2 separate regions of the Homo sapiens genome follow, and region 2 is linked to region 1. The links come from fine-mapping of genetic effects on gene expression. Tissue or cell type: blood mononuclear cells. Region 1 holds a variant in brackets; the other region holds the start of a gene. All regions are shown on one strand. Distances are between the middles of the regions.

Region 1 (2,679 bases):
ATGTGCTGGGGCCTGAGGCTTGCTGGGGTTGCCTCTCTGAGGCTGCTTTCTCATCTGTCTAATGGGGACAGGGCTGTAACGATCACTATGGCAACCACTCATTTATTCAACAAATATTTATCGAGTTCCTATCACATGCCAGGCACTGATGATCTTTTGGAGACAAGGCAGATGAGCGTCCTAATCTCATGAAACTTACATTCGGGAGGGAAAAACAAGGCATGCGGAGTGAGGGGAAGGGGCGGAGGGGTGGGCCACCTGCTGGGAGGAGCCTGGCGGGTCCTGGAGGGTGTTCCCAGCTTTGGCTTCCTCCTTCCTATGCTGTCTGGTTTCCAAGCTCTCCCCGAAGCTCCAGCCCCACTCACTGTCCCTCTCACCTCCTCCAGGGAGGCCTCCCTATGCCACAGCCTCTCACCTCCTCTGGGGAGGCCTCCTTATGCCACAGCCCCACTCTCTGTCCTCTCTCACCTCCTCCAGGGAGGCCTCCCTGTGCCACAGCCCCACTCCCTGTCCCCTCTCACCTCCTCCAGGGAGGCCTCCTTGTGCCACAGCCGCACTCACTGTCTCCTGCCCTCTCTTCCAGGGAGGCCTCCCTGATACTCTAGCCTCACTCAGCCTCCTCACCTCCTTCACCTCCTCCAGGGAGGCCTCCTTGATGTTCCAGCCTCATTAACTCCCTCTCACTCCTCTGGGTCCAGCTTCCATGACTTTTCCTGTTCCTAGTGTGGAGCCTCCTCTCTTCCTTTCTCCATGTCAGCACCAGCCCCACCGCCTCCAGGCTTCTACTCATTCAACACACTGCGTACCGGGCACAGGGGGTCTGGACCTCACCCTTACCCTCAGTCTACCTCCAAACCCTGCTGTGAGCCTGGAAAATATGGGAAGGCAGGGAATCCACAGGACAAGTCGGGAGACTGGGGCTCAGAGTCGGGAAGGAGCTGGTCTAGGGCCCCTGGTGGGTCAGCAGGCAGGACTGGAACCCAGTCCTGGCTCCTCAGTGGCCGGTGGACTCCAGCCAGCCCTGCCTCGCTGACATCTGTCAAAGCAAGGGGATGGGGAACGAGCGGTAGAGCAGGCGCTTCACCATGCGTACTCTGGGTCTCCCTGAGACCCATGTTCTCAGTTGCTGTGTGGGTTCGGAGGAAGTTACCAGCAGACAGGAAGGATGGAGGGTCAGGAGTTCACTCACTTCCTTCTCCTGAGAACATGCAGAGTCCAGCGCAAGCAGGGGGAAGGGCATCAGGTTGGGC[A/G]TGGCCAGCGCTCTACAAGCCTGGGACAGAGATGGGGGTCTCAGGCTGAGTGTCAGGGTTCAGTCCGGGGTCAGGATGTAGCCCAGGGTCATGGCTGAAGGTGAGGGCTGGGGGTCACCTCCCTGATGTTTCAGCCGCCACACAGTGAGTTTGAGAACATGAGTCTCAGGGGATGTCATGCCCCTGTTTCACCCCTCATTCCCCTCATTCTCATCCCCTTGCTTTTTTTTGAAACCGAGTCTTGCTCCGTCACCCAGGCTGGAGTGTAGTGGCGTGATCTTGGCTCACTGCAACCTCCACCTCCCAAGTTCACACGATTCTCCTGCCTCAGCCTCCCGAGTAGATGGGATTTCAGGTGCACGCCACCATGCCTGGCTAATTTTTGTATTTTTAATAGAGACAGAGTTTTGCCATGTTAGCCAGGCTAGTCTCGAACTTCTGACCTCAGGTGATCCACCTGCCTCGGCCTCCCAAAGTGCTGGGATTACAAGTGTGAGCCACCATGTGGGGCCCATCCCCTTGTTTTGACAGACGTCAATGAGGCAGGGCTGGCTGGAGTCGGGAGCCCCAGGGAAGTCTTCCTGGAAGCAGTGAGAGGGATGGGGGTAGGAGGCTGAAACATCAAGGAGGGCTCCCTGGAGGAGGCGGGTGGGTCTGAAGCATCAGCAAGGCTTCTGAGTTACTAGTGTCTAGCTCAGCTTCCAGGAGGCAGTGTCGGAGTGCTCTGCTGTCAAGGGTTGGGACTCATGACTCACAGGGCTGCATGCTGTGCTGGGGCTGAGCTGACCCTGGGCTCTGCCCCTTCCAGTGCTGCTGGGCCTCCAGGCTTCTGCCCTGTCTGTCCTGATTCCAGAATATCAGATTCTCTCTGCTTCCCTGTGAAGCCAGCAGGCAGAAGTGACTGCCTCTGTTACCGGCAGGGATACTGAGGCCTAGAGGGCTGGCATGCGGCAGAACCGATGTGAATTCATTCAGGTCATAGGGACAGACTTGAGTTTGGGTGTTGGCAATCCCGGTAGAGGGAACAGCCAGGGCAAAGGCATGGAGGTGGGACCCACAGCGCTGTGGCTACCTTACCTGGTAGCCAGCCTGACACCCAGGAGTGAAGCCTTCTCTGCCTTCTTTTCTCAGGTTCCCAACAAGGCTACGCAGAAGAACCCCCTTGACTGAAGCAATGGAGGGGGGTCCAGCTGTCTGCTGCCAGGATCCTCGGGCAGAGCTGGTAGAACGGGTGGCAGCCATCGATGTGACTCACTTGGAGGAGGCAGATGGTGGCCCAGAGCCTACTAGAAACGGTGTGGACCCCCCACCACGGGCCAGAGCTGCCTCTGTGATCCCTGGCAGTACTTCAAGACTGCTCCCAGCCCGGCCTAGCCTCTCAGCCAGGAAGCTTTCCCTACAGGAGCGGCCAGCAGGAAGCTATCTGGAG
Region 2 (2,679 bases), 30 kb before region 1:
TCTACTTGACAAGGAGAGACTGACCTGGGTGCTGGAAGGGGCCATGGGCAGCCCTCTGTGGGTGACCCCCATTCAGACAGGCTGCCGGGATTCCCAGCCCCAGGGCCTGGCTCCCTGCCCAGAGCACTTCCAGCTCATGGCTCGCCAGCAAGAAGACTCCTTATCAGCCTTAAGGGTGGGGCGGCTCCGACGACAGGGCCGTGGGGGCTCGCCAGGGAGGCCCCTGCTTCCAGCTTGAACCTCCAGTACCACCCCGGGTGAGCTTGGGCAACTCATTTCTCTTCTCTGAGCTTGGTTTTCTCATCTTCAAAACGAGGGGTGGGGCTGGGGAGGCCTCCAGCTCTGAGGAGCCAACGTGGGACCCTCTGCCCACCCCAAACCCCTGTGTTCAGGGCCCGAGCTGGGGGTGGGAAGGGAAGGCAGGGACTGCAGAGGTGCTGTGCCCCAGACTCAATGGTGGCCTCCAGTTCTCTGTCCCGTGTTGCTGAGACCCATCCCCTGTGAGCCTCGACCTAGAAGGAACAGCCCTTATTACCCCAATTTACAGATGAGGAAGCAGGCTCGGAGAGGCAAGGTGACACCCAGCCCCCACAGCCAAGAAGTGGCAGAGCCAGGGATCTCCGAGGTCAGGCTCTCTCGGCTGGTCTTGGGCCCCCCATGGCACTGGTGACGGATGTGGTGCTGGTCTTGGCTGGGCACCTGCCACCTCTCTCCCTCTGATGGTGGCCCCGGCAGGACAGACAGTGGGAGAGGAGAGCTGGGGGATAGAGATGCCAGCTCAGCACCGAGGTTGACCGGGCACAGGCCAGGCTGGAACTCAGAGCCTCCTTCCTCTCTGCCTTGCTCGCTGCAGACCCCCAGGGACGAAGCAGCCAACCCTGGTGGGGGAGGGTGGAGGGTGGTGGATGGGGCTGGGGATGGAGGTCTCATTTTGGCAGTGGAGGGGAGTCGCGGGGAGTCCCCTAATCTGAGGAGACTCCAGCTTCCCCCAGGCCCTGGCCAGAGCTCCATCTTGCCAGGTTTTGGGGGGAGGATAACTTGAGGAGTCGACTGAGAGCTTTATCTTTGCCCCTGTGACGGGTGGCCTGTGGTTTCCTGCCAACAACTCCTGTTTCCGGAGGCCCAACAAGGCCCACGCAGAGCCAGGAGGGGCAGTGGGGCTGGGCCTGGGTGGCCCCACCAGCCCCGCCCCATCTATCTTTGGGAATTTATTTGTCCATGGGCGAGGCTGGCCTGCAGTCTGTTGCCTTCCAGGGGCCAAGAGCTGCTCTGATCACCCAGGGATTCTCTCTCCAACCCAAGTGCCTCCAGCTGACCTCTGGCTCCTGTCCTCTGGCTCCACCTGCACCGCCCTGCTCTTCCTAAGGGGCCAGGAAGCCCCCAGAAGCTCTACCATCGACGTGGGTGGTGGCACCCGGCTCACCCTGAGAGCAGAGGCCGTGCAGGGGGCTCAGTTCTGAGCCCCAGCCGGCCCACCATGGCACGGCGGTTCCAGGAGGAGCTGGCCGCCTTCCTCTTCGAGTATGACACCCCCCGCATGGTGCTGGTGCGTAATAAGAAGGTGGGCGTTATCTTCCGACTGATCCAGCTGGTGGTCCTGGTCTACGTCATCGGGTGAGTCCGGGCGCCTCCCGCTGCCTGCACCAGCCCCTACCCCGGGCCTGTCCTCCAGACTCTGACATCCCTTGCGTGACACCAGCGAGCCCCTCTTCCTCTCCATCCAGGGGAAGGCCTTCCTGGCAAGCCACTGTGCGAGAATAGAAAATCCTGCCAACTCGCTGTTGAGATGGGGACGAGGCCGGAGGGGAAGCCCTGCCCGGGGGCCTTCGGTGAACAGGAGGCAGAGTCTCTGGGTTCTGAGGAGCCGGCTCAGTGTTATGGTTCCTTTGAGTGGTTAGTGGTGTTCAGGGCCAGGGCACCACCAACCACAGCCACTGAGTCCTCGACCTCTGACCGCCTGCCAAACCAGGCCGCCACTGACACACAGAGGCCATACCCCACACCCGTCACCCCATATGACAAGTTAGAGAGAGACAGACTCTGCTGCCAGCTTCCCTGCCTGAGCAAGGGACATCCAGGGACGTTTGAGGCCCCCGGAGCAGAGAAACTCTCACATTCTGAATACCTGGTGCCTTCATGTTGGCATGTCAGGCGGAGGACAGAGATTGGTTCTGGTCCCAGGGATGATAGTTCCTTTCTGGGCATCTCCGGACCTGTCCCACCGGGCTGGGAGTGCAGAATCAGAGGCAGCGTGGGACGCTCCTGCAGTATGGTTGTCTCGGGAGCCAAGACAGGCCTGGCAGAGGCTGGCACACTTGTGAGTGTGCATATGGAGCTCTGTGCCTATATGTGTCTGGGTGTGTGTCCCTGGTGCTGAGTGCCCACATGTGGGTACCCTTATGTGTACATATGGCTGTGCCCATGTCTGCCCTGTGGCCAAGTGTCTGGGTGGCCAGTGTGTGTCCCCTGTGTGTGGTGCATCTTGTCCACTCACAGTGACTCTGCAGAGGTCTCCTGGAGGCCCCAGGGCCACTGGAGGGGGCTCAGCCCCTGCTGGGGTCCTAGGGGTGCCCAGTAGCCCCTGCCTGCCTTTGCCGTGTGATTCTGAGAGCTCTACCCTCCCCATTTTTACCATGGTTCCGAACCAGAACTGCTAAATGGAGTCCAGGGCAGGCTGAC

The links. PIP is the estimated chance that this variant, and not a neighbour inherited with it, causes the effect.
Region 2: P2RX1 starts here. The variant in region 1 is fine-mapped to the expression of P2RX1 in blood mononuclear cells (TOPMed, PIP above 0.99). The same link has a PIP of 0.9 or more in whole blood.

The regions. Positions count from the first base shown.
Region 1 is chr17:3,885,433-3,888,111 of GRCh38, reverse strand. It overlaps CAMKK1 (calcium/calmodulin dependent protein kinase kinase 1), which reads left to right. Exons shown (of 16, transcript NM_032294.3): 2 at 2,382-2,679. The coding sequence starts at 2,425. Among named protein-coding and RNA genes, the nearest start is that of CAMKK1, 6.3 kb to the left of the region's middle. RefSeq lists an enhancer at 1-39. The variant A/G (reference allele first, on the strand shown) is at 1,251.
Region 2 is chr17:3,915,024-3,917,702 of GRCh38, reverse strand. P2RX1 (purinergic receptor P2X 1) reads left to right here and starts at 1,238. Exons shown (of 12, transcript NM_002558.4): 1 at 1,238-1,614. The coding sequence starts at 1,478. RefSeq lists an enhancer at 2,065-2,134.